Homo sapiens: one gene and its partners. The gene in region 7 interacts genetically with the main gene of each other region. Each region holds a gene or a part of one and is shown on either strand. Other genes may lie near its edges.

Region 1 (4,494 bases), on a different chromosome or scaffold from region 7:
GCACTTTGGGAGGCAGGGGCTGGTGGATCACCTGAGGTCAGGAGTTCAAGATCAGCTTGGCCAACATGGTGAAACTCCGTCTCTACTAAAACTACAAAAATTAGCCGGGCGTGGTGGCGCGCCTGTAGTCCCAGCTACTCGGGAGGCTGAGGCAGGAGAACGGCTTGAACCCGGGAAGTGGAGGCTGCAGTGAGCCGATATCACACCACTGCACTCCTGCCTGGGTGACAGAGCTAGACTCCGTCTCAAAGAAGAAGAAAAAAAAAACACCTCGAATTCCATGCCTAGCTAATGATCATTCACGTGTATAAGGGTAGAATGGAGCTATTTTGGGTCCTACAATGACTCGGAAATCTCACATCCCACACAGCATTTCTTAAGAATTAAGAATAAGGAGGCCAAGGCAGGCGGATCAGAAGGTCAGGAGATCGAGACCATCCTGGCTAACACGGTGAAACCCCGTCTCTACTAAAAGTACAAAAAAATTAGCCAGGCGTGGTGGCGGGCGCCTGTAGTCCCAGCTACTTAGGAGGCTGAGGCAGGAGAATGGCGTGAACCCCGAAGGCGGAGCTTGCAGTGAGCCGAGATTGATTGAGCCACTGCACTCCAGCCTGGGAGACAGAGCGAGGCTCCGTCTCAAAAAAAAAAAAAAAAGAATTAAGAATAAAAACTAAGAAAACGATTTAAAGGAAGAAAGATGGGCCGGGCGCCGTGGCTCACACCTGTAATCCTAGCACAAGGGAGGCCCAGGGAGGCGGATCACGTGTGGTCAGGACAGAGACCAGCATAGCCAACATGGCAAAACCCCGTCTCTACTAAAAATCCAAAAAAAAAAAAAAAAAAAAAAAGGCCACGTATGGTGGCTCATGCCTGTAGTCTCAGCACTGTGGAGGCTGAGGCAGGCGGATCACCTGAGGTCAGGAGTTCGAGACCAGCCTGACCAACATGGCAAAACTCCGTCTCTACTAAAAAAAAATCAGCTGGGCGTGGCGGCGCACACCTGTAGTCCTAGCTGCTCTGGACGCTGTGGCAGAAGAATGGCTTGAACCCAGGAGGCCAGAGGTTGTAGTGAGCCGAGATCATGCCACCGTACTCCAGCCTAAGAGACATAGCGAGACTCCGTCTCTAAATAAATAAACAAATGAAGTAAGATGATGATCCAGAAAACAGTACCTCCCACTGAAGAAAGATATGATAGCAATAATAATAATAAAATCCCAGATGCAGCTTTCCAGCAAGCCTACAGAATAGCCAGGTGTGACAGCAACAAAAATAAATAAGACCCCAAGAAGGACTATTCAAGAAGAAAGATGACTCTTGATAGACTACCTGGTAAAATAGAGTCCGGGCGCGGCAAGATGTAAAGTGGAAAAAGAAAGACAGCCCCAGGGAAAAAGACAAAAGCAGCACAAAAAACAAAATCACAGTACATAACCTGAATCTACACAGTGTCAATAGTCAACTATCCTATCTGATTTTTCAGCATTTTAAATCTGTATAGTCAAAGCCCTGATCATTTAATTTTGGATGCCCACAACGCAAAAGTACAGCTGACAAACTTGAGGTGAAAGGGAAGAAAAGCTAAGATCGACCTTAGAAAGCATTGAGTCAAGGGATACGTTACACAGGCGATGGAATGAAAAAGGCAAATTACTTAGTTATAAAGCTTACCAATAAAAATATATATCTAGTGATTTACTCCATTAAGAGTATAGAGGGAGGGCTGAATAGGTGACTAAATCCTCTCCTATTCCAGCTAGAATTCAACAGATCTAAAAGTGATAACGTATAAGTATGATACTTAGAGACAGAACCAAAACAGTTAAAGGTGGAGAAATGGGATGAGAAGGGGTAGAGCAAGAACTGTTGCTTTTTGTTTAACCCACGTGCAAGTAAAGTTCAATAAAGTTCGATTAAAATTTTACAAAGGAAACAAGTATTCAATTTAGCAGTTGCTTTTTGAAAAAAACAAGAAATAGTGGGAATGTCACTAAGACAAGGCTTTTGGTTCCTCCTTGGATAGAAGCCAAGAAAGTTAAAAAAAAAAAAAAAAGCAGAAATAAGTTCACAGTGACAGGCAAGCACTGCCTTCAAAAACTAAGGAGTGAGGTACGCGTGATGTGCCTCTGAACGTTTCCAATCCAGAAATTCTAATTAAGAGCACAAAATCGAATCCGCATGGAATGACGAAAACAATAAAAACAAAACTCAATAATGGCCAAAAATCTACTTACGTATTAACTAACAACAAAAATTGTACTGCTCAAGTACATCCAGTAATCTTGAAATTTTCAACAAGCACCCACCCCGTTCAGTAGTCAGGGCACACAGAGAAGGGTAACTTCTCAGAATTCTATAGCGCTCATCCTGGACCTGACATACTGCTTTCAGCGTCCAATCTAACCAGAACAACAAATGGTCCTGAACACTAGGAGAAAACCTTTCCGGCACAATTGGTAAACAACGAAAAGGTCGCCGCCAGGGATTCCTTTACAAGGTTGTCAAAAAGCTGGCCTCCGAATCCGTGCATCCATAACCCGCTAGCTCAGCTGACCTGGCATGCATTGCTCAACAACAGCCTCTGAACCTCTTCCGAGACCCAAAATGCGCGGTCTGGAGAGGAAACAAAGCAGTGGGCGGGGCCTTCCGGTGCCGGGAAAAAGCGAGTAGGGGAGGAGCGACCCTCCTGCGAGTTCGGAACCCTATAGGCCCTTGCCCCGCCGAGGGTCCTGAATTCCTCGCCCCCGGGGTGCTGAATCCCACAGCCCGCGTCCCATCGCGTGTGGGGCTGCGACTGCTCGCGAGGCTGGCAGCAGGGCGCGAGCTCCGGCAAGGCTCCCCGGGGGCAGGCGGCGGAGCCCATGGGCCGCGGCCTAGACGTGCCGGGGGCCCGGGCTCGAGTGTGGCGGCCGCCTGGCGCCTCCTCACCTTCTCTTCCACGCAGTTGACTATGATGGACGGGTACTTGCGGCTGAGCCAGCGGAAGAACGCCGGGACTCCCATAGCGGCACACGGCTGGAGGCGGCGGCCGACCGGCTGACGAGCGTAACCAAAGAGACGGGAGCAGCGGCAGAGGGCACCAGCACTTCCTCCCACGTGCGCGCTGGAGAACGGAAGTGACGTCACGGCGCCGCCGCCGGGGAAGCTGGGAAGGAGGCTTCGCTGGATGAGGGAGCGGCGGAAAAGGGCCTTGCCGGGCTGTTTGTGGGAGGCGGAGTCCGGCGGCGGACCGGGTGGCGAAGGCTGCAGCTCGCCCTCGGTGGTCCCAGCCCCGGAGCGCGAGGCCGAGCGCGTCTGAGTTGCGGGGGCTCACGGGCGACTGCTCTGCCGGGGCTCCGCCGGGATCTCCCAGCCCCAGCCCTCCGGCTCCCTGGGCACAGAATCGCTGCGCTCTGCATGCCCGGGAGGAGGTCTCCCTTGCCCGTTTGGTCACCTCTTGTTTGGAAGAAAATGTCTTTTTTTGCCTCTATGCTCACCCGTCTCAATCTAGGGTAGAATCGAAGCATCCAAACTTACTCGTTACTTCCATTTCCTGGTTTCTCCTAGTTTTGTGCTGCAGTACGTACCTGGACTATCAAAAGGAGCATTTTAAAGCATTTTACAGTAATAATGGCTGCTTTGCACCAATAATTTGATTGTTATGCAAATAAATAATTATGATAGTTACCGAATGGAATCTAGCCGGTATTTAGCATCCAATACAATCTTCCAGCTACAATTACGGGTATAAAATAGTTGCTAATATGATTTTCCAGCATTTACTGAGCCTTTACAGTGTACCAAGACATTGACTAAGGGATTGTCCTATGTAATCTTCACTTGAACCTTGTGAGGGTACTGTTAGCACCCTCGTGTAAATGATAAGAAAGCCAAGTTACAGAGGAGTTAAGTCACTTATGCACATAGCTTCTGTTTCAGTTCAAGCAAAGGTCATTTTTAATCCATCCTTGTTCTAACACGATACTTTTATCTTTTGTTTTCTGGTGGTCCCAAACGAATTTTTTCCATATGAAAGGAGAGGTCTGGAAGAGGAGGTATATTTGTCCGTTTGCTCAAGCCTGGAAGTCTCCCTGAATCCCCTCTTGGTTTGACACACATCACACACGATGCTAAATGCTCACCTCATGAGGCCTCTGTGAAAGTATTTCGCCGAGTTACCTCACAGGCAGTATTTATTGCCCCCTCCTCTGTGGTCTGATGACTACTTTGTTTAAACTACTAGTGTGGAAATTAGAGAAATAGTCATCCCGTGTTTTACTTAAGGATAGCCAAAACTATTCCAAAGTATTATGTCTATGGTGAAATTCCTCCTTTTACCTGGAAGCAGCCCCTCTGGTTTCCCTGGGAGGTGCTGTTATAGGAACATGTACACCATAGGCAGTTCAGGGATAGACAGCTGGCCAAGTTGAGCCATTTAGAATCCTTAACCAGCATTTTGGCGGGTTGGGAGGGTTTATTGTTTTGTTTTTGTTTTTTCAGACGGAGTCTCAGTCA
Region 2 (3,906 bases), on a different chromosome or scaffold from region 7:
TTGTCCCCGGGGCGTCCTGCCAATGAGGTCGCGGCTGTGCAGCCAGATGAACGGACCACAAGCCCCTGCCTGGACCGCCTGCTCTCCGGGGCTGCTTTTCTGTGATGCTCACAGCAGCTGCTGCTCCTGGGGGACCCAGGGTTCCCTGCCTTCACTCCAGCTGGTGAAGTAAGTGCAGGGTGGGAGAAACAGTGGCCCTGGGAGGTCACCTGTCTCAATGTCCTGGAGCTGCTGTGGCAAAGCACCACAGCCCGGGCAGTTAAGGACAACAGGGATTCGTTCCTCACAGCTCTGGAGGCCGTAAGTCTGAAGTCAAGGTGGCGGCAGGGCTGGCTCCAGCTGGAGGCTGGAGGGCAAGGCCGTCCCAGGCCTCTCTCCCAGCTCTGGTGGCTGCTGGCCACTCGTGGTGCTCCTTGGCTAGCAGACATGTCACTCCAGTCTGTTGTCACATGGGCTTAACTCTGTGGGCCTCTTTCCTTTTTTTTTTTTTTTTTTTAAGACAGTCTCCCGCTGTCACCCAGGCTGGAGTGCACTAGTGCGATCTTGGCTCACTGCAACCTCTGCCTGCCAGGTTCAAGCGATTCTCCTGCCTCAGCCTCCCAAGTAGCTGGAATCACAGACATCACATCCTGTTAATTCTGTATTTTTAATAGAAATGGGGTTTCACCACGTTGGCCAGGCTGGTCTTGAAAACTCCTGACCTCAGGTGATCTGCCCACCTCGTCCTCCCAAAGTGCTGGGATTACAAGTATGAGCCACTGCACCCAGCCCTCCTTTTATCTCTTAAAAGGACACAAGTCCTTGGCTTTGGGGCCCACCCTAAATCCAGCATGTCTTCATCTCCTTATCTCTTAATCTGATCGGCAAAGACCCTTTTTCCAAATGATATCATATTCACAAGCATGTGGGATAGGATATGGACGTACCTTTTGGGGGACACCATTCACCCCACCATGCTGCCTCTGCACAGGAGTCAGCTCCCAGGAACCCCAGGTTTCTTTGAGTGAAGGGAGGCGGTAGTTGGGACACTGCCTCCGTGGGCCAAGGAAGAGCAGGATCACAGCAGTCTCCCCATGCCAGACCCTCACTCCGACCCCACAGCAGGAGGGGGCAAGGTTCCTGGGTCCCCACAGCCCAGCCCCCTCTCCCCTTGGCTGCCGCCCATGGGCGTTTGACCAACGCTGGCCTGTGGCTCAGGGGCAGGACAGGCGTGGCCTCACCCACCCTCCCACTGGGCTCCAGGGGAGATACTGGCAGGTTGCAGTCCCCAACTAGCTGGGACTAGAAAACTGATAGGATTTGGGAGGCTGAGGTGGGCAGACCGCCTGAGCTCAGGAGTTCGAGACCACCCTGGGCAACACGGTGAAACCCAGTCTCTGCTAAAATACAAAAATTAGCTGGACGTGGTGGCACGCAGCTATAGTCGTAGCTACTCAGGAGGCTGAGGCACAAGAATCACTTGAACCCAGGAGGCAGAGGTTGCAGTGAGCCGAGATCTCACCACTGCAACTCCAGCCTGGTGACAGAGTGAGACTCCATCTCTAAATAAATAAATAAGAAAACTGATGGGAGGGCCCTGCCCCCGCTGCGCCCTGGGCTGTCTTGGGGCTCTGGGTGTTGCAGAGGGCTGCTCGGTAATTGATATTTTCAGTTCTAGGTTCAGAGAGTGCCTTGTGGTCCATGAGGGCGTGTGCACACACAGCACTGTCTCTGACCCTCCCCTTTGAAGCAGGATCCATCACCAGCCCCCCACTGCTGTGCAGGTGAGGGAAACTGAGGCACAAAGCAGCAGGGGAGCAGAGGGGAGAGGCGCCTAATCTGAGGGATGCTGTGCGCTGCACGCCATGCCCCCACCCACCCAGGTTCATAACCAACAGGCCTTGAAGATGGCCCCGCGCCTCAGGCCAACCCATTCTCTGGGGCCTCACCTCCGACTCTCGTGGGCGAGGTAGTCAGCAAACATGCGCACGGCCTGGAGCTCAGGGGCCGAGGAGGGCTTGATCTCATCCAGGACCACACCGAACTTCCTCTGCAGTAGGGACGAGGCGTCAGCTGCACCCGTCCACCCCAGAGGATTTCCATGTCTTCAGCTTGGCAGGGAGAGCCCCAGACAGGAAGTCCCTGCCCCACCAGGGACCCCTCAGCCCAGCATGGGCCACCTCCACTGCAGTACACTGTGGAGGGTGGCATGGCGTCACCTGTCGTGAGCAGCCAGGTGTGCCCTCATCTGCAGGGCCACACTGCCCATGCCTTGAGCTAGGGACCCTGGTAGGTTACTGTCTATCCCCTGGCAGCTGTCCACCTCTGGTGGTGAGGTGAAGGGCGTGTCACCTGGGGGCAGGGCAGCAGCAGTTATGGGGGTTGTGACATGCGCTTCTATAAAGCAGGACATGCCCCCAGCCAGCCCTGCCCACCTACTGGCCCTCTGAGGATGCCCAGACTGATACCACTGTCACATCTGCAGCTGGGGGCCCGTCCCTCATTGTGTTCCCTCCTAGATGGTTCCTTCCCCATTTTTTTTTTTTTCGAGACGGAGTCTCGCTCTGTCGCCCAGGCTGGAGTGCAGTGGCGTGATCTCGGCTCACTGCAAGCTCCACCTCCCAGGTTCACACCATTCTCCTGCCTCAGCCTCCCGAGTAGCTGAGACTACAGGCGCCCGCCACCACGCCCGGCTAATTTTTTTGTATTTTTAGTAGAGACGGGGTTTCACTGTGTTAGCCAGGATGGTCTCAATCTCCTGACCTTGTGATCCACCCACCTTGGCCTCCCAAAATGCTGGGATTACAGGTGTGAGCCACCACGCCCGGCCTTTTTTTTTTTTTTTTGAGATGGAGTTTCGCTCTTGGTGCCCAGGCTGGAGTGTAATGCTGTGACCTCAGCTCACCGAAACCTCTGCCTCCCAGGTTCAAGTAATTCTCCTGCCTCAGCCTCCCAAGTAGCTGGGATTACAGGCATGCACCACCACACCTGGCTAATTCTGTATTTTTAGTAGAGACAGGGTTTCTCCATGTTGAGGCTGGTCTCGAACTCCTGACCTCAGGTGATCTGCCCGCCTTGGCCTCCCAAAGTGCTGGGATTACAGGCGTGAACCACCGGGCCCAGCCCCCATTCTTATTTTTTTAGAGACAAGGTCTTGCTATGTTGTCCAGGCTGGAGTGCAATGGCGTGATCACGGCTCACTGTAATCTTGACCTCCTGGGCTCAACTGATCCTCCTGCCACAGCCTCCCAATTAGCTGGGACTCCAGGCACATGCCACCATGACTGTCTTATTTTTTAATTTTTTTTTGTAGAGACGGGGGTCTCACTATGTTGCCCAGGCTGGTCTTGAACTCCTGGCTTCAAGTGATCCTCCCACCTCAGCCTCCCAAAGATTACAGGTGTGAGCCACTGTGCCTGGCTCCTACCAATTATTTTAGGAAAAAAAAAAAAATCGGCTGGGCGCGTTGGCTCACGCCTGTAATCTCAGCACTTTGGGAGGCTGAGGCAGGTGGATCATGAAGTCAGGAGTTCAAGACCACCCTGGCTAATGTGGTGAAACCACGTGTTTATTAAAAATATAAAAATTAGCCAGGCGTGGTGGCGCACGCCTGTAGTCCCAGCTACTTGGGAGGCTGAGACAGGAGAATCACTTGAACCCAGGAGACGGAGGTTGCAGTGAGCTGAGATCGAGTACGACAGAGTGAGACTCCGTCTCAAAAAAAAAAAAAAAAAAATCAAGAAGCTGTGACCCAGGCCCCCTGGCCTGGCAGTCTCAGGCCTCCGTGACACAGCCACCTTCACATGCTGGCTGCGCTGGCTGTTCACAGTCACTGAACACTGCAGGCCTGGGTCCCTGCTTTGTTTACTGTCCCCGCCACCCACTCTGTGGTGCCTTCCTGTCCCCAGCCCCACCCTCTACTCTGTT
Region 3 (3,906 bases), on a different chromosome or scaffold from region 7:
TCTGGCTTCATTTTCATCTATGATATTAGATATTTAGATTTGACTAGATAATCTCTAGAATCCTTTTTAGCTCAGGTTTTAGAATTCTGGCTTATTTTAGCAGTAATAAGAGCAGTTATCATTGATTGATTGCTTACTGTATGTTAAGTTTGTTATAAATGTTTTACATGAGGTACTCATTTGACCCTTACTACAACGCTATGAGGTAACTATGATTATAGACTCATGCCAGGAATTTTATTCCTTAAAATAACCTTGTGAATAAAGGTACCATTGTCTAATTTTACAAGTGAGGAAATTGAGACTTAGAAAGTTGTTACTTTCTGAGATCAATCACTTAATATGTGGTAGAGCCAGGATTCAAGATTTATGCATTGACACTTTATGATGTAAACTTTAGCCCTTTGTTAGTTTACTGTTCAATGGGAGTCAAGATAATAGTTTTGGATTTAAATCCTAGCTCCACTACTTAACTAGTAATGTGGCCTAGAGTTAGTTATTTTGTGTCTGAGTTTGTTTCCTTTTCTGTAAGGTGAAGAAAATATCTAACTCTGTAGAATAAAGTTCCAGAAGGAAATTATTCCATTATGTTGTGTTTTGGAGGTGCTGTGATATATACAGCACTTTACACAGTGGTAGAGTGAGCTATTGCTCACTTATCTTTCTAGACTGTTTAAAGGCTTGTGTTGGGATCAGAAGGGTTAAAGAATTTGATGAAGTATCTTCTAGTCGTAGGAGTCTCTATTTTCTTAACATCATTCTAGAGTCCACTTATTGCTGAGAATCTCCTTTTACCTTATTTATTGCCCTGATATAGCTATCGCATATAATTCTTATTGTAAATTGCCTTGATTTCTTTTGGGAAAAAGGCATTGTAGTAGTGTTTATATTCTTTTTTACTCTACCCAAAGTGTATCTTTATATAACGACCTTTAGAAGATGTAGAGTTTAAATTTAGCTACCTTGATTTTGGATCCCTTTGGCCTGTAATTGTTACATCTCATTATAAATTAGAAATGCCATGAGGTAACTTAGTACATAATTGTAATTTATTCAACATTTTGTTGATTTTATTTGGGCATTTTTCCAAAGCAGAAGTAGAGATGGAGAGCAGGTAAAACTTCATAGATTGCTACCTAGAAATTAGGCATCTTTTTTGATAAAAGAATGGGGCCATTTTTTTCTTTTCTTTGCTGAGTGCCCTCTGTCATTTCTATCATGGTCTCTCTTTTAGACTAATGGCAATTCCAATGGCCTTGTACCGATGCTGAGAGTATATAACAACACAGCTCGATATGTGGATCAAGGTGGGAACAAGGTATGCTCCATGAATTGAAAGTACTGGAAATCAGAACTAAAGGTGATTTAGTCATATACACTTAAGATGGTTCATTTATGTGTAGTTTCTAATTACCTTTTTTTTACTTGTAAAATCAATTTGAGGAGGTATAATTATTTTAATATGCATATACTTTAAATGTACAGTTTGATGGGTTTTGACAAATGTATACACTTGTGTAATCACCACATTGATAAAGAGGTAGAACATTTCCATTACCCCAAAATCTTTTCTCCCTCATATACCTTTACATTCAGTCACCCCTGTCACCCCTACCCACACATACTTTATCCCTGGCTCTAGACAGCCACTGATCTATTCAGCTTTCTTACATGATAGTTCGTTTGCAAAGAATTTCTCAAGTTGTAATTCATATAAATTTGTTACTTGAAATGGGGTTGTAACATGTGCTCTAGGTTTTTCTTTCGTTTTTTTTTTTATCTCTCTCTTATCACCCAGGCTGGAGTGCAATGGTGCGATCTTGGCTCACCGTAGCCTTGACCTCCTGGACTTAAGTGATTCTTCTGCCTCAGCCCTCCCATGTAGCTCAGACTATAGGCCTGTGCCACCACACCCAGCTAATTTTTATATTTTTTGTAGAGGCGGGGGTCTCACTTTCTTGCCTAGGCTGATCTCAAACTCCTAGGCTCAAGCAATCTACCTGCCTTGGCCTCCCAAAGTGTTGGGATTATGGGTGTTAGCCACTGCACCTCGCCTAGGTTGTTCTTAAAACAAAAACAAAAACTACCTGGAATAACAAAACTCTCCCTAATTGGCTGGATGCAGTGGCTCCTGCCAGTAATCCCAGCACTTTGGGAGGCTGAGGTGGGCTGATCGTGTAAGCTCACAAGTTCAAGACCACGAGTTCAAGCTCACGAGTTCAACATGACGCAACCCCATCTCCACAAAAAATACAAAAATTAACCGGGTGTGGTGGCGAACGCCTGTAGTTTCAGCTTCTCTGGAGGCTGAGGTGGGAGGATGGCTTGAGCCCGGTAGGCAGGAGGTTGCAGTGAGCCGAGATTATACCACTGCACTCCAGCCTGGGCGGTAGAGCTAGAACTTGTCTCAAACAAAACAGAACAAACAAACAAAAACTCTCCCTAATTGATAGAAGAAACAGTAAAGTTGAGAGAATTGGGTTGTTTACCTTATTTTATCAACAGGATGGTTTACAACTAGAGTCTGCCTTTTGTGACTGTAGGCACACTAATCGCTTGTTGGTTTATGAATTTCTCTCTGATGGACTTTGGGGACCTTGATAAGACAGATCAACTTTTTGACCTACAATAAGAGCATGGCTTATACTGTCAAAGCAACTTCCTTTGGGCTTTATGTACATGTCATGTGGTGTAAAGAGAGCTGGGCTGTTGCTGAAGAGGAGGCTCCATCTGTAGTTCATCATGTCACTTTAGAAAAGTTAATCTTGTTTCACATTTTGTTTATATCATTCGTTCGTTTTTACTCATAGAATTGTAAAATATTACTTTTACAATTATATATGGAAAACTTACACTTTTATAATACTTTTATTTATGTTATTTAATTCATTGTAGTGAAAATCAAAGGAGATACTATAAAAGTGCTTTGGGAGACATGATGTTTCTTTGTTTCATTTTTATTCTGAAGAGAATTATGATTTATTTACCACTAGCGTCCTGGGGCATTTGCTATTTACCTGGAGCCTTGGCATTTAGACATCTTTGAATTCCTTGATTTAAAGAAGAACACAGGAAAGGAAGAGCAGCGTGCCAGAGATCTTTTCTTTGCTCTTTGGATTCCGGATCTCTTCATGAAACGAGTGGAGACTAATCAGGTGAGAGATAGGTACTTGTTGGTAATAGCAACTTGATTCACATGAGCTTTCTCTTTTTTAGTCATCTTAAGTCATGCTTAGGAAGAGCCCATATGTGTGTGATGCCACAGAAGGCATTCTGAACAAGTTAAGAGATGCCGTGCTTGTCTTCTTATATTTCTATTCTCTAAAGTAGATGCTTTGTGACCTAAATGCTTAAAAGGTCATGTATAAACAGGCAGACCTAGATGTTTGGGCCTGAACCTGAAAATGATTATTTCTACAGCAAATTTCCAAGAGAGCTTGTAAAAGTCACCTTATGCTTGCAGTGTTTCTAATGGATTATGGTTGGCTATTTGAAGTTTCTTATGAGTGATTTTGTCCTTTCCTTTTTAGGACTGGTCTTTGATGTGTCCAAATGAGTGTCCTGGTCTGGATGAGGTTTGGGGAGAGGAATTTGAGAAACTATATGCAAGGTATGGGAAAAATATGAAAGAAAACAATAATGTTTTAATCATGGTTTCTCTTATTTCAGGGGTCCAAATATCAAAAGTACTTGTCAAGAATCTTTTGAAGCATCTAAGAGAAAAAGTGACTAATAATTTTGGTCAGATTTGCTTCCTGACTCTTCACCAAAATTGAGTTGTGTCTTCTTCTTTCTTAAAACTTTGGAATGTATAAATAGGTTCTTGGGATTTTTAATTGATCCTTTTAAAATTTAAGATGACTAGTAGGGTTATTATTTTGCTCTGTCATATAGTACTTTTGATAA
Region 4 (3,906 bases), on a different chromosome or scaffold from region 7:
CTTTTAAGTTAACACATTTGTTCGGTAAGTAGGGCAACTTGCTGGGTGCCGTGGCTCATGCCTGTAATTCCAGCACTTTGGGAGGCCAAGGCGGGTGGATCACAAGGTCAGGAGTTCGAGACCATCCTGACCAACATGGTGAAACCCCGTCTCTACTAAAAATACAAAAATTTGCTGGGTGTGGTGGCACGCCCCTGTAATCCCAGCTACTCGGGAATGCTTGAACTAGGGAGGCGGAGGTTGCAGTGAGCTGAGATCATGACACTACACTCCAGCCTAGGGGACAGAGCGAGACTCTGTCTCAAAAAAATAATAATAATTAAATAAAAATAAAGAGGGCAACTTATATATGTACTGTTCAAGGTAGGCTTTTGAAATACCTTGAGAATAACTGCAATTGGACTAAATCCAGAACATCTTAAAGTCTAGAATTACTGGAAAAGAAGGTAGTGATGACAGAATTTTGTGAAGGCAATTAGACATGCCCAGCAGGCAACACGAATAATTAAGTTAACGGGAAAAGTTTTTTCATTTGCCTCCAATTTGAGACCTTAACTGAATTAACTACCAGTGCTGAATGGATTGATAGCCTACAGAACCCTTAATTATCTTACCCATTATAGATAAAGTAATGTCACACTTTTGCTGTTAACGGACCTTAAGTTTCTTTCTTACAGACCACAGTATCTTTTCATGGAGAGCTGTACTTTGAGAATACATATGTCCAGGGCTGGAGACTTTTCACTGTAATATATAGTTACACCTGTGCTGTCACAAGGTTCCTTAGGAACGAATAAGAAGTCAAAAGAACTAAGAAAGTGCCGGCCGGGCGTGGTGGCTCACGCCTGTAATCCCAGCACTTTGGGAGGCTGAGGCGGGCGGATCAACTGAGGTCAGGAGTTTGAGATCAGCCTGACCAACATGGAGAAACCCCGTCTCTTAAAATACAAAATTAGCCTGTAATCCCAGCTACTCGGGAGGCTGAGGCAGAAGAATTGCTTGAACCCAGGAGACCTCGGAGGTTGCAGTGAGCTGAGATCACGCAATGATTGCACTCCAGCTTGGGCGACAGAGTGAGACTCTGTCTCGAAAAAATAAATAAACTCAGAAATTATGACCAAATAAGAAGGAGGAAAATTAGTATATATCCTCCTATGTTTTCATATAATGTATATATATATTTTTTGAGATGGAGTTTCTCTCTCTTGTTGCCCAGGCTGGAGTGCAATGGTGCCATCTTGGCTCACTGTAACCTCTGCCTCCCGGGTTCAAGCAATTCCCCTGCCTCAGCCTCCCGACTAGCTGGGATTACAGGCATGCACCCCCACGCCCGGCTAATTTTTTATTTTCAGTAGAGATGGGGTTTCTCCATCTTGGTCAGGCTGGTCTCGAACTCTTGACCTCAGGTGATCCACCTGCCTCAGTCTCCCAAAGTGCTGGGATTACAGGCGTGAGCCACCGTGCCCAGCCGACACAAATATGTTTAAAGTCAAACACATTTCTACAGTATCAACAGTTGTGTAGTATAACCAGTTCTGGGAAGCTCCCTCTTAAGAATTCCTAACATTTCGTATGACAAATAGCAAGAAGATGAATACACTTTGTAGTTAAATCTTTATATATCCTTTATTATTTCCTTGATAAATTCCTTTCTTTTTTTTTTTAGAGACGGAGTTTCTCTCTTGTTGCCCAGGCTGGAGTGCAATGGTGCGATCTCAGCTCACTGCTACCTCCGCCTCCCGGGTTCAAGCAATTCTCCTGCCTGGGCCTCCCAAGTAGCTGGGATTACAGGCATGTGCCACCATGCCCAGCTAATTTTTTTTTTTTTTTTTTTTTTTTTGAGACAGAGTCTTGCTCTGTCACCCAGGCTGGAGTGCAGTGGCGCTGTCTTGGCTCACTGCAAGCTTTGCCTCCCGGGTTCACGCCATTCTCCCGCCTCAGCCTCCTGAGTAGCTGGGACTACAGGCGCCTGCCACCACACCCGGCTAATTTTTTTGTATTTTTAGTAGAGACAGGGTTTCACCGTGTTAGCCAGGATGGTTTCGATCTCCTGACCTCGTGATCCGCCCGCCTCGGCCTCCCAAAGAGCTGGGATTACAGGCGTGAGCCACCGCGCCTGGCCTAATTTTTATATTTTTAGTAGAGACAGGGTTTCACCATGTTGGCCAGGCTGGTCTCAAACTCCTGACATTGCATGATCCACCCGCCTTAGCCTCCTAAAGTGCTGGGATTACAGGCATGAGCCATCACACACGGCCAAGATAAATTCTTAAAAAAGAAAGAAAAAAAAAAAAGAGAGAAAAAAGAAAAAAGATAAATTCTTAAATGGAATTGCTGAACAAAAGTGTATCATGTACAATTTGTAAGGCCTTGAATAAATGCTGCCAAAGTAGCCTCTAGAAAGATTTTAACTGCAATGTACATTCCTTCTAGTTATATAAGGACTCATTTTAGGCATTTTAACAAATTCAAAAATACAGAATATTCTGATACCTCAGCAATAGCCCACTCATTTACAGAACAATTTTAGCATTATTATTTCACTGACCTTAACAACCTCTAGGATACGAACTGTACTAGCAAAATCATTTAACCGTCTGCATGCCCGCAAAGCAGCATCAATGATTTTGGGCTCTGGAACCATATCATAGGTAACAAGTGTGTTTATCCCTGCAAAATTAAAAAGAAGGGCCATGTCAACCTCGAAGAGCCTCACTTAAACTATGAGTTATTTATATTTTTACTGAATCACTGATGTATGATCTTATCTGTCTGGGTCTCCATTCTCTTACCTATAAAATGAGAGAAACCTACCTTTAACAAATTCTAGATAATAAGATCACAGTGGATCTCCCTTAGTGAATCAGTGGAAAGAAAGAACTATGCAACAGCACGCAGATTGAAGGAAAAAATCCTGAGTTTTTTTTTTCCCCTTTGAGAACAAGAGGGTCATTTTCAACTCCTAACTTTTTTTTTGGAGATGGAGTCTTGCTCTGTCACCCAGGCTGGAGTACAGTGGTGCCACCTCAGCTTACTGCAACCGCTGCCACCTGGGTTCAAGTGATTCTCCTGCCTCAGCCTACCAAGTAGCTGGGATTACAGGCGGGTGCCACCAAGCCCAGCTAATTTTAGTATTTTTAGTAGAGACGGGGTTTCAGCATCTTGGCCTGGCTGGCCTTGAACTCCTGACCTCGTGATCCACCTGCCTCGGCCTCCCAAAGTGCTGGGATTACAGGCATGAGCCACCACATCCGGCCCTCCTATCTTTAACTCTTAGTACAATGAACACATTTTGGATGCTTTAAAAGAGATTCAAGGCTGGGCTCAGGTGGATCACCTGAGGTCAGGGGTTCAAGACCAGCCTGGTCAACATGGAGAAACCCTGTCTCTATTAAAGATACAAAATTGGCCGGGCGTGGTGGCACATGCCTGTAATTCCAGCTACTCTCGAGGCTGAGGCAGGAGAATCACTTGAACCCAGGTGGTGGAGGTTGCAGTGAGCTGAGATCGCGCCATTGCACTCTAGCCTGGGCAATAAGAGAGAAACTCCATCTCAAACAAAACAAAACAAACAAACAAAAAAACCAAAATAAAAGAGATTCAACTGGAAAACAGCCTAAAAACAGCCAGAGAAATGCGTAGAGTTAATGAAGCCTAAATGAGGACATTAAGGAGATATTATAGAGAAACATTAGTACACAGACTCATAAACATTCAACCAGAAAATGATTGGGCATGATTACTTTCAGATCTGCACAAAATGACACATAATAAAATTTAAGATTCTCTTAATGGGAATACATAATTGTTCTTTTTATTACTTCTACTCCAGATTGTTCAGTAAGAATTCTATTGGTTGTAGCAAAAGGGAATCATTACATTTCTGCAGAGAAGTTTAAAGCACTT
Region 5 (3,906 bases), on a different chromosome or scaffold from region 7:
AGCACTTTGGGAGGCTGAGGTGGGTGGGTCACCTGAGGTTCAAGACCAGCCTGGCCAACATAGTGAAATCTTGTCTCTATTAAATATACAAAAATTAGCCTGGTGTGGTGGCACGTGCCTATAATCCCAGCTACATGGGATGGTGAGGGAGGAGAATGGCTTGAACCTGGGAGATGGAGGTTGTAGTGAGCCAAGATTGCACCACTGCACTCCAGCCTGGGCAACAGAGCGAGACTCTGTCTCAAAACACACACACACACACACACACACACACCCCTAAAAGATACACACACACACACCCCCTAAAAGATACACACACAACCCCTAAAAGATACACACACACCCCCTAAAAGAGACACACACACACCCCTAAAAGATCTTTGAGACCAGCCTGGGCAACATAGTGAGACCCTGTCTCTACAAAAAATAAAAAATTAGCCAGGCATGGTGGCACATGCCTGTAGTCCCAGCTATGGTGGCACATGCCTGTAGTCCCAGCTACTATGGAGGCTGAGGTGGGAGGATCACTTGAACCTGGGAATTTGAGGCTACTGCGGGCCATGATCATGCCACTACACTCAGTCTAGGTGACAGTGCAAGACCCTGCCTCAAAAAACAAAAACAAAAAAAAGTTTAAAAGACCAATACCACCGCCGGCATGATGGCTCACTCCTGTAATCTCAGCACTTTGGGAGGCTGAGGCAGGCAGATCACTTGAGGTCAGGAGTTTGAGACCAGCCTGGCCAACATGGTGAAACCCTATCTCTACTAAATTACAAAAATTAGTCGGAAGTGGTGGCGGGCACCTGTAATCCCAGCTACTCGGGAGGCTGAGGTAGAATCGCTTGATCCTGGGAGGTGGCAGTTGCAGTAAGCCAAGATTGCACCACTGCACTCCAGCCTTGGCGACAGAGCGAGACTCCCTCTCAAAAAAAGACCAACACCACCAAAAGTTGACAAGGAACTCCCAAACACTAACAGGAGTGTAAAATGGTATAACCACTTTTGAGTTTCTTACAAGAATGTTCACAGCAGCTTCATACATTAGAGCCAAAAACTGGAAATAAACTGGGTGTCCGCCAAGAGGAAAACAGACACAGTGATATGTTCATACCATAGAATAGAAACACAAATAGGAGGGCTGTTTAAAAACCAGCAGTACCCCCAGACAGGTTCACCAGGTGCTCTACACATAAACATTTCCTAGTTGCCTCAAATATACTTTTACATGATCTACACTTCCAGACACAGCTTTTTTTTTTTTTTGAACAGTCTTGCTCCATTACCCAGGCTGGAGTGCAGTGGCACAACCTCGGCTCACTGGAACCTCTGCCTCTTGGGCTCAAGCACTACCAAGCCTGGATAATTTTTTTTTTTGACACGAAATTATGTGTTTACATGCAGGAGGACTGCAGGATGCTGGCAACTGGGAAAGACCAAGTGTCTACTTAAATTTGCACCGGCCAGACAGGTGGCTGTTCTGGTTAAGCCAGTTTGCCAAGAGGCCAGGGGCCTGGCACTCCTTCACCTCCAAGGCCTCCCCATCCTACCTGCACTGGCGGGTCTGCATGCTGAATGTTGTCCTGCAAGTGGCTCATGAGCATGAGGTCGCGGGCCTGGTACCAGCGCGAGTGCAGAGCATGGTGGTAGATGTGGCAGAGGATGGCACATGTGCGGATCCGGTCTGTGCGGTCCTTGGCGTAGATGTACTTGCACAGTCTCTCCATCAACACAGCCGAGTCCTCGCCCTCATTTTCTGCCTGGTCTTGCTCAGACTGGGGAGGAAGGGAGGTTATTTGCAAAGGAGATCCAGCTTTAAAAGGCACAGGCTCTAGCAACTAAAGATGAGACTCTATCCAGTCTCATTCTAATACCTCAGTTTCCCTCCCTGCTCCACCTGCGGAAGTCTAGAGAGTAACAGATTTGCTGTCAAGTCCTGACAGAAGTGGAGGACAGGTGGACACACCCATTCCCCTCTGCCATGACTGCCACGTGCTCACCTTTGAGGAGCCCTCAGGCGGGGTCAGCTGTCGCTGATGGGCCTTGTAATCAAACTTGTAGTAGGTGTGCAGGATGCGCAGCAGGTAGATGCGGCAGACCTCCTCGGTAGTGCCCTTCTCCTCCAGGTAGCGCTGCACACGCTCGATGATGGCACACACCTGGGCCTCATCCTTCAAGTGCTCCACGTACTCTGGCAGGGAGAGCACCCACCCTTGTCTCAGCTGGGCAGCCAGGCTTTCCCATCTGTCCCCACTCATTCCAATCAACCCGTCCCTCTTCTGCACCCGTCAGAAAAGTCTAGTCAGTGTGCCCCAGAAAGGCCATCTCCCACTCCCAGGACCCAGAACCTTCCAGTCCCACAGCTTAGGAAAAAAATCCCAACTGCCAACCTCTGCCAATAAGGGTCTGCCAGGCCTGGCCCTTGCCTGGTCTCCCACGATTCTCCCTCTGGCTTCCTGTGCTGGAGTCCCACTGGCCTTTTTACTCCTGGAACATCAAGCTCGCTCTCTGCTCCTCCTGTCAGGCGCTGTCTTCAGCTGATTCTTCCCCTAACTCCTCCTCATTGGATCTCACCTCAGGTGGTCCCTACTTAAGGGTGCTTTCTCCAGCTGTTAGCTACAGCAGCCACCCCTCCAGCCACTTCTTACCACAGGGCCCTAGTTTAACTCTGAACTTTATATCATCTAGAATTATTATTATTATTTTTTGAGATGGAGTTTCACTCTTTCGCCCAGGCTGGAGTGCAGTGGTGTGATCTCAGCTCATTGCAACCTCTGGCCCGCTGGGCTCAAGGGATTCTCCTGCCTCAGCCTCCCACATAGCTGGGATTTACAGGCACCTGCCACCATGCCTGGCTAATTTTTGTATTTGAGTAGAGCCAGGGTTTTGCCACGTTGGCCAGGCTGGTCTCAAACTCCTGACCTCAGGTGATTCACACACCTCGGCCTCCCAAAGTGCTAGGATTACAGGCGTGAGCCACTGCACCTGGCCCAGAATTATCTTAACATCATACTATTTTTTTTTTTTTTTGAGATGGAGTCTTGCTCTGTCGCCCAGGCTGGAGTGCAGGGGTGTGATCTCGGCTCACTGCAAGTTCCGCCTCCTGGGTTCATGCCATTCTCCTGCCTCAGCCTCCCAAGTAGCTGGGACTATAGGCGCCCAGCACCACGCCTAATTTTTTTTGTGTGTGTGTGTGTATTTTTAGTAGAGATGGGGTTTCACCGTGTTAGCCAGGATGGTCTCAATCTCCTGACCTCGGGATCCGCCTGCTTCGGCCTCCCAAAGAGCTGGAATTACAGACGTGAGCCACCACGCCCGGCCATATCTTACTACTATTATTTTTCAATCTGCCTTTCTCCATCCAGCACAAAAGGTAAGCTTTTGGCTGCCTTGTTAATCACTACACCCTTGACTTGATGGGCACATTCACACTTTTACTGAGTAAACTATGCTGCACTTTCACACCCCAATGCCTCTCATCCAAGCTAAACAAGAGAAGTGAATAGATGCCTTACCCCAAAGGTTCTCAAAGTATAGCCCTGAGACCAGCAACCTGGGAGCAGGCTAGAGGTGCAGGTTCTCAAGCCCCACTCAGACCTATGGAATCAGAAACGATGGGACTGGGAGCCAGCATCTCATCAGGCCCTTCCGTGTGAACGCTAGGTAAGTTGAAAGGCTGGCTTTTCAAGCACTCTGACTTAGTATAATCCTCACAAAGCTCTAAACCTAGTAATATTCCCCACAATTTTCCTCTCAGCAAAGCCCACGCTTGCTCAGGCTCACCTTGGGAGTGAGGGTCAGTATTTTGCATTATTTTGGTAAATTCTTCATCCATTCGTTCCACCAGAGTTAGGATGCAGCCACGGACACGCAGTGGCTGAAAAGGAAGGCGAAGGAGGAGTCAAC
Region 6 (3,906 bases), on a different chromosome or scaffold from region 7:
GTTTTTGGTTTTTTTTTTTTTTTTGAGACACAGTCTCACTCTGTCGCCCAGGCTGGAGTGCAGTGGCGCAATCTTGGCTCACTACAACCTCCACCCCCTGGGAGTCAAGCGGTTCTCCTGCCTCAGCCTCCTGCGTAGCTGGGACTACAGGTATATGCCACCACGCCCAGCTAATTTTTGTATTTTTAGTAGAGGTGGGTTTTCACCATGTCGGCCAGGCTGGCCTTGAACTCCTGACTTCAGGTGATCCACCCACCTCGGCCTCCCAAAGTGCTGGGATTACAGGCATGAGCCACCACGCCTGGCCCTCAGCCTGTAGTTTCTAAGATTTTTATCCTGGACCTGTAGGAGTAGGAGTCTAAGTGCCCTTTAAAATTGTACACAAGGCCGGGCGTGGTGGCTCACGCCTGTAATCCCAACAATTTGGGAGGCCGAGGTGGGCGGCTCACAAGGTCAGGAGTTTGACACCCGCCTGTCCAACATGGTGAAACCCTGTCTGTACTAAAAATACAAAAATTAGTCGGGCATGGTGGCACACACCTGTAATCCCAGCTACTCAGGAGGCTGAAGCAGGAGAATAGCTTGAACCTGGGAGGCAGAGGTTGCAGTGAGCCAAGATCATGCCACTGCACTCCAGCCTGGGCAACAGAGCAAGATTCCATCTCAAAAAAATATAAAATTGTACACAAAATTGTGTGTATGTATGCATTTTATTTGGAGACAAGGGATATCACTCCCTCTCCCCAACACTGGCTAAAAAGTTACTGCAATCTGGCTGGGCGCAGTGGCTCACGCCTATAATCCCAACACTTTGGAAGGCCAAGGCGGGCGGATCACGAGGTCAGGAGATTGAGACCATCCTGGCTAACACGGTGAAACCCCGTCTCTACTAAAAATTCAAAAAGATTAGCTGGGCATGGTGGCGGGCACCTGTAGTCCCAGCTAATCGGGAGGCTGAGGCAGGAGAATGGCATGAACCCAGGAGGCGGAGCTTGCAGTGAGCCAAGATCACACCACTGCACTCCAGCCTGGGCGACAGAGCAAGACTCCATCTCACCAAAAAGAAAAAAAAAAAAAAAAGTTACTGCAATCTAATTAATGATGGTAATCTTTGGTTTATGACATGCAAGCACCTATATGATTATGATACACTTACATAAAGGAATACCAGCAAAGCCTCAGACACTTATTTTAAATTCACTGATTTTTTTTTTTTTTTAAAGCTAAGAAGACCTTTTAGGGAAAGAGAATTTGTAATGTTGGAAAACCCAGCAGTAATAGTATGTCTGAACGTCAGAAGGGCTAGAATCAACTTTTGAAAGTTGGCAATACCTAGTCTAGCAAACATAATGAAGACTAACTCACCCATTTGTTTATTGAGCTCCTTATCTTGATTCCTAATAGGCAATGACTAGAATTAAAGAAGGTGACTAATACTTGAAATGACATGGGACTGTTATTTTCAGATAATTTGGTCTTTCTGAAGCTGTAACAGTACCAATAAATTGTTTTGCTCCCTGGACAGGCTTGAGAAGGAGAAAGCAGAAATTGAACGCATGCGAAACCTGACTGAGGAAGAGAGGAGAGCTGAACTTCGGGCAAACGGCAAAGTCATTACCAACAAAGCTGTTAAGGGCAAATACAAGTTCTTACAGAAGTATTATCACCGGGGTGCCTTCTTCATGGTAAGAAGTGAAAAGAGAGTCAGAAAATTGGGCAGTAGGAATAACTCAGAAACTTTGAATTATTTTTCTCTTCAAGAATATTCTGGAATGTAATTTCCACTTGCCAGTGGTCAGCTTTCTCATTTGCTTTTTCCTTCTGAACAATATAAACTCAGAGAAAAGCATCAGCAATTGGATGACAGAAGTAGCATCAACTGTTCTCTCTTTTGGCCCCAACTCTCAAAAATAGGAAATGATGTAATAGACTTTTTTTTTTTTTTTAAGAGACAGAGTCTCGCTGTCACCCAGGCTGGGGTACGGTGGTGCGATTATAGTTCACTGCAACCTTGACGTCCTGCGCTTTACACCTGCTTCAGCCTCCAGAGTAGCTGGGACTACAGGCATGCAACAACCATGCCTGGCTTTTTTTTTTTTTTTGGTTATTTTTTTTTTAATTTTTCGTAAAGACCAGGTTTCACTATGTTGCCCAGGCTGGTGTTGACCTTCTGGCCTCAAGCAATCCTCCCACCTCAGCCTCCCAAAGTATTAGGAATACAGGCATGAGCCATCATCCCCAGCCTTAGATAAATTGAGGAAATGAAATAGAGAAGTGATCTGTACAGATAGTGGACTAATTAGGTCCTCCACATGACATAGTTGTCATTCTTTCATAGCTGAATGAGAAGTTTTGGTTATGTGAAAACCAAACTCTGCAAATAGCTTTACATTAATTCACTTTTGGGTGGCAGAAAGTTAGTTCACTTCATTCTGAACTGACAGTACCCAAGAGTAACTAACCAAAAAAAATGGTTTATTATCTAACCATTAGATGGAATGCCGTCATCTTTGTTTTTCATATAAAGACTAAGATCAAAATAGCAATCTGTTAACCCTGTATGGTTTATTTCCTAATGTTAAAGCAGTTTGCACCAAAAACTAGACTAGCTTTTTCAAGTGCCGTGTGGCAAATTCTAAATATCCCCACTGCAACTAAATTCCTGCCTTTCACTGCAGATGCTGTTAAAACTTCAGTGGCGGCTTCCCTGCCACCCTCCAAAATCAGTTTCAGGTCTATCTGATTAGCAGGAAGTGTTTACTTAGGTAGTTTTCCAGCAGATGTAGCTTACTATTCAGTGGAGATTATGAACTACTTCTTGTACTGCTTCGGTCATAAAGTTTGTTTGCTTAAGCAGTTCGCAGCTTTAATAATCAAGTTTCTTAGAGAAGCAGTTCATTGCTAGTTAAGATACATAAGAAAAGTGTATGTGAAAGTCCTTTGGTGGGCCAGGTACATTGGCTAATGCCTGTAATCTTAACATTTTGGGAGGCAAGGCCAGCAGATCAGTTGAGCCCAGGAGTTCAGCCCGGGCAACATGGCAAAACCCCATCTCTACAAAAAATACAAAAATTAGGCGTGGTGGTCCGTGCCTGTAGTGTCACCTATCAAGGGGCTGAGGTGGAAGGATTGCTTCAGCCCGAGAGGTTGAGGCTGCAGTCAGCCGTGATCGTGCCACTGCACTGCAGCCTGGGTGGCTGACCAAGACTTTGTCTCAAAATAAATTGTTTTTAAAAAGTCTTTCTTAAACAAGATAGTGCTATTTTTAATTCCTTCAGCATATGTGTTTATAAATATGTATCACAGCATTGTAATATTATCACTCAGGCTAGAGTGCAGTGGTGCAGTCATGGCTCACTGCTGCCTCATTCTCCTGGGCTCAAGCAGTCCTCCTGCCTCAGCCTCCTGAGTAATTGGGACTACAGGTGTGTGCCACCACACCTAATTTCTATTTTGTAGAGATGGGTTTTGCTATGTAGCCCAGGCTGGTCTCAAACTCCTGGGCTCAAACTCTCCTTCCACCTTGGCCTCCCAAAGTGCTGGGATTACAGGCAAGAGCAACTGCATCCAGCCTTACTAATGTTGTTTATTTCATTGAGTAAGTAAGCTTTAGTGCATATACTATGCAAAGGTCACTGTTTAGCACTGTTAGCGAGAATACATAATCACTATAACATAAGTAAAAGTAAAGTACTGTAGGGGTTCTGACGAGAGAGATGTTATATTTGGTAGAAGATTGAAAGGGTTGACGTAAAGGTTGTAACATTTAAGCATTTAAGATGTATAATTTTGGGCCGGGCGCGGTGGCTCACGCCTGTAATCCCAGCACTTTGGGAGGCCAAGGCAGGCGGATCATGAGGTCAGGAGATTGAGACCATCCTGGCTAACATGGTGAAAACCCATCTC
Region 7 (3,906 bases):
GCCAAGTTCTCACAGCTAATAAGTAGAGGAGCCTGGATTTAAATCCATGGACTCTGACTCCGTAAGTCTGTATCAAATATGTAAGTGTCACAAGGGAAAGATAAGGTTCTTAAAACCTCCATCAAGCAGTCAGATGTTCAGGAAATGATAACACTCCTTGGGAGTTGAACTAAATCTTTTGGATACAAAAATCTGATTTTAGGCAGTATCTTAGAATTTTGCAGGTAAAAATGACAGGTCACAGAGAAAGGTTTTAATTTGTACAGTGCTACCATCACATATGTGAAGCCATTTGTGTTTTTTTAATGCTGTTGTAGATAAGGAAGAAAGTGAAGAGTTGTCCAAGGTCACACAGCTCCTAGGTGATCTTCCTGATATCCTTGTTTGTTGTACTTAACAACCTAGGATTTCTTTGAGTCCAGAAGCATTCACTGAGCTGACATTTCATTGATGCCCTGAATCAGATTCAGCTAGAAACCACATGCACAGACAGCCGAAGTGTTTGAAGGAAAATCTGTCAATTAGTTAATAAGGTGGGAACTGAGTTTCAAAGAAAAAATTCTAAATGTTCTAAGCTGTTTGGTGAGCCAGTTTAGAATGCCTTTATACCCTTTTAATCTTTGTGTTGAGAATAAACTTGCCCTTTCTAACAGAAGTCAGCAGTTCATGTTGTCATATATCAGCCATACTGAGAAATCAGGGGTTGGTAGAGTTTTAAAAAGCATTAAAACAGCAACTGTATTATTTTGAAAATAAGCCAAAGGATTAACTTAATCTGTTGCCCAGAAACACAAGTGAAAGAGAAACACAAGTGAAAGACATTTTTTAATCTTTTGCCATATCATATAGCAAACTAGAAGAAAACTGAACTTGGGAGGGAAATAGGCCAGCCACTCAACCTTCCAGCAATTATTAGGAAATTAAACAAGAACTCTTAAAGTAAATGTCCTGCTATTTTCTCATTGAAAGGGGAAAGTCTGTTGCTCTCATGGAGGTTTACATTTTAATGCTCTTTCACTCATTTTAGATATTGCTTGGATGACCGAAAAGCTTTGGAAAGAGATGGAGGATTTTCTGAACTTCAGTCTCGTCTTATTCGTTATGAAACTCAAACTACCTGCACCAGAGAAAGTTTTCCAGTACCTACTGTGTTGAGCCCTCTTCCATCTCCTGTAGTTTCGTCAGATCCTGGAAGTGTCCCTGACGGAGAAGTTTTACAAAATGAACTTCGAACTGAAGTATCCCGATTGAAACGGAGATCTAAAGATCTGAATTGCCTTTATCCCAGAAAAAGGTGATATATTACATGCACATAAATAGTATATTGACAGAAAGTATTTTAGTCTCGAGGATTTTTATTTTATTTTATATTAGTCTTTCAGGTTAATTTCTTCATGGCAAGAAGTTTGTTTTATGAGCTGTTGATAATTTTGCTTATAAGTTATAAAAATAAATGATTTGGGAAAAAAACACAGTTTCTTGCTTTATATGCTAATATACAGTCCATTAGCACAATGGATTGTAAAGTTTTTAAGCCATGGAACAGTGGAGATTTCACCCCATAGATTAAGCTGCTGAGCTGCCCTGTTGAAGAGACTGTTTGGGGATGGGAGTTCTCCCATTAGCTCTTCCTTTCCTTTCCCCTCAGTTTCCTGCCTGCATTGTTCCCTTGAGCAAGAGATTCCATGAGGTACCATTTTTAAAACACCTGTTACATATAAAATATAGCTTTAAACACTGCATAATGATAGAATATATGAAACTTTTCTGGATGCGTTAGTTTGCTAACTAAATGAAATATCCAGATACTTGATCAGAAGTTAGAAGTTTATGTAGTGAACACTAATTTTTATTGAATTTATGTTATCTTTAGAACCTTTGTCAAACTTAGGTTCTTGGCATCTAAAGCAAGGCTTGAATTCTTATTGTATTTAAACCTTGCAAAAAGTATGAACTATATGAAAACATAACTTTCAGATCTTTTTTTGAATAGTTAAGAAAGTTAGAATAAGGTTACCCTGATATGGAAGAACTCAGTCATTTTTATGAGGACTTTATAAATTCATGGTACTTTTTATACCTGATAAAATTAAAAAGCAGCAGTTACATTTGGGGTACTATATTTATAGCCATATTTCTTATTTCTGACCTATGGCTAATAAAAATATATGTGTTCCTAAAAGGAATGTATACTGTGGCTTCTGGGTCAGCAGAATTGAGGGCTATAAGACCCTATCTTGTAAAGGGAAAAATTTGGGCCTTGTCAGGAACAAATGTAAACATTTTAGGAAGATTGAAGTATGAACCAGTTTTATAGTTTATTTGTATTTGTTTTAACACTATGACTTATTTTGCAAGGGAGTTCCATGGGTATAAAAAGATACAGGTTGTGGTGTTTCTGTTCAAATTATCTTAACAGAAAAGTATAAATATTTAACAGATTAGTATTAAATCTATAAATAGCAGCACTCTTGGCATGCATAGCTGATTTATTTGAGAAATTGTAAATTGGAGGGATGGGAGAGAGTATAACAATATTGTTTGTTGCTTTCTCTATTAGCCAAAATCCTAGTTTGCTATTCATTACCTTCTATGTGTTAGTTACTCATCTGAAGAACTAAGGAACAACTTTATAATATGATGTTTATTGCTTACTTAAGGCAGTAATAGCAATAAATTTTGTTTGCTTTTCTTGAATTTATGTTATAATGGATATAGTGGTAACACTATAACATAGTGGTATAGTGTTATATATTATGTAATATATTATGTTATATATTATCTATTATGTAATAACAGTGGTATAATATAGTGGTAACACACTGGTAAGACAGAAAATGAACTTCGATGTTGATTCACTTAATGGATATAGTTGTAATATTTAAGACAGAAAATGAACTTCGATGTTGATTCGCTTAATCTACGTTCTTGATTTTTTTCCCCTGCTATATAGACTTGTGAAATCTGAAAGTTCAGAGTCTCTTCTTTCTCAGACAACTGGTAATAGTAATCACTATCATCATCATGTGACATCCAGAAAGCCACAAACAGAACGGTCCTTACCAGTGACTTGTCCATTGGTTCCAATTCCTAGCTGTGAAACTCCAAAACTTGCTACAAAGACCAGTTCAGGTCAAAAAAGTATGCATGAATCAAAAACATCAAGGCAAATTAAGGAATCAAGATCACAGAAACACACACGGGTAAAGATTTATTTCCCATTTTTCTTAGTTCTACATAGGAAGACTTTTTAAATTTGATTACTTTAAAATATATGTCTAAAAAATTTTATGAATGAAATGAAACGATGTCTAGAATTTACTGGTGTAAGAAGGATGATAGGAAAGTAGGTGGGGATATAATTGAAACAAGATTAGCCACAGATTAATCATACTTGAAGCTGGTTAAAAGATATATCAAGATAGAAATTTGTTATAAAATATTCTGTGCGTGTCAAATATTCTCTACTTTTCTATGCTTGAAATTTCCCATAATAAAAAATAAATATACACTTACATATCCCTGCTGTGTGTAACTTTAACACTCAGATTTCAATTCAGAACTCATGATTTGAGTTCCTTTCTTAAGACACTGTAGTCATTTCCTGCTAACATATTATTCCTGTGACACTTCTGACCATGTAAATGTTAGATCTTTTTTTTCTCAATCATTTTGTCTTAATGAACCTGTCTGTCTTTTAGCACAGCAAAATGAATGTGTAATTCACAGGATTGAACTCTAAAGCTGAAATAATAGGTTTGTGCCTTTTCCAAGAAATATTCGTCATATGTTATGTTCTGTTCAAGATACTGAAAGAAGTAGTTACTGAAACCCTGAAGAAACACAGTATTACCGAGACTCATGAATGTTTCACTGCATGCAGCCAGCGTCTCTTTGAAATCTCTA

Evidence for each region.
Region 1: changes in MTBP (region 7) and XRN2 together harm fitness more than expected from each alone (negative genetic interaction), as found in Homo sapiens cells (one large-scale study listed by BioGRID).
Region 2: changes in MTBP (region 7) and COPE together harm fitness less than expected from each alone (positive genetic interaction), as found in Homo sapiens cells (one large-scale study listed by BioGRID).
Region 3: changes in MTBP (region 7) and RRM1 together harm fitness more than expected from each alone (negative genetic interaction), as found in Homo sapiens cells (one large-scale study listed by BioGRID).
Region 4: changes in MTBP (region 7) and COX5A together harm fitness more than expected from each alone (negative genetic interaction), as found in Homo sapiens cells (one large-scale study listed by BioGRID).
Region 5: changes in MTBP (region 7) and EIF3C together harm fitness more than expected from each alone (negative genetic interaction), as found in Homo sapiens cells (one large-scale study listed by BioGRID).
Region 6: changes in MTBP (region 7) and MFAP1 together harm fitness more than expected from each alone (negative genetic interaction), as found in Homo sapiens cells (one large-scale study listed by BioGRID).

The regions. Positions count from the first base shown.
Region 1 is NC_000020.11:21,301,908-21,306,401, reverse strand, and holds the start of XRN2 (5'-3' exoribonuclease 2), read right to left. Parts: upstream 3,072-4,494; 5' UTR 3,004-3,071; coding exon 2,929-3,003; intron 2,905-2,928; exon of another isoform or gene 2,864-2,904; coding exon of another isoform or gene 2,555-2,863; intron 1-2,554. UniProt on the Homo sapiens protein: Possesses 5'->3' exoribonuclease activity. May promote the termination of transcription by RNA polymerase II.
Region 2 is NC_000019.10:18,909,043-18,912,948, forward strand, and holds part of COPE (coatomer subunit epsilon), read right to left. Parts: intron 2,030-3,906; coding exon 1,929-2,029; intron 1-1,928. UniProt on the Homo sapiens protein: The coatomer is a cytosolic protein complex that binds to dilysine motifs and reversibly associates with Golgi non-clathrin-coated vesicles, which further mediate biosynthetic protein transport from the ER, via the Golgi up to the trans Golgi network.
Region 3 is NC_000011.10:4,118,611-4,122,516, forward strand, and holds part of RRM1 (ribonucleoside-diphosphate reductase large subunit), read left to right. Parts: intron 1-1,234; coding exon 1,235-1,318; exon of another isoform or gene 1,319-1,360; intron 1,361-2,993; coding exon 2,994-3,155; intron 3,156-3,530; coding exon 3,531-3,610; intron 3,611-3,906. UniProt on the Homo sapiens protein: Provides the precursors necessary for DNA synthesis. Catalyzes the biosynthesis of deoxyribonucleotides from the corresponding ribonucleotides.
Region 4 is NC_000015.10:74,924,218-74,928,123, forward strand, and holds part of COX5A (cytochrome c oxidase subunit 5A, mitochondrial precursor), read right to left. Parts: intron 2,671-3,906; coding exon 2,549-2,670; intron 1-2,548. UniProt on the Homo sapiens protein: Component of the cytochrome c oxidase, the last enzyme in the mitochondrial electron transport chain which drives oxidative phosphorylation.
Region 5 is NC_000016.10:28,724,890-28,728,795, reverse strand, and holds part of EIF3C (eukaryotic translation initiation factor 3 subunit C), read right to left. Parts: intron 3,878-3,906; coding exon 3,784-3,877; intron 2,192-3,783; coding exon 2,001-2,191; intron 1,776-2,000; coding exon 1,551-1,775; intron 1-1,550. UniProt on the Homo sapiens protein: Component of the eukaryotic translation initiation factor 3 (eIF-3) complex, which is required for several steps in the initiation of protein synthesis.
Region 6 is NC_000015.10:43,807,534-43,811,439, reverse strand, and holds part of MFAP1 (microfibrillar-associated protein 1), read left to right. Parts: intron 1-1,525; coding exon 1,526-1,685; intron 1,686-3,906. UniProt on the Homo sapiens protein: Involved in pre-mRNA splicing as a component of the spliceosome.
Region 7 is NC_000008.11:120,514,898-120,518,803, forward strand, and holds part of MTBP (mdm2-binding protein), read left to right. Parts: intron 1-317; coding exon of another isoform or gene 318-321; exon of another isoform or gene 322-339; intron 340-405; exon of another isoform or gene 406-533; intron 534-1,027; coding exon 1,028-1,294; intron 1,295-2,953; coding exon 2,954-3,203; intron 3,204-3,806; coding exon 3,807-3,906. UniProt on the Homo sapiens protein: Inhibits cell migration in vitro and suppresses the invasive behavior of tumor cells. May play a role in MDM2-dependent p53/TP53 homeostasis in unstressed cells. Inhibits autoubiquitination of MDM2, thereby enhancing MDM2 stability.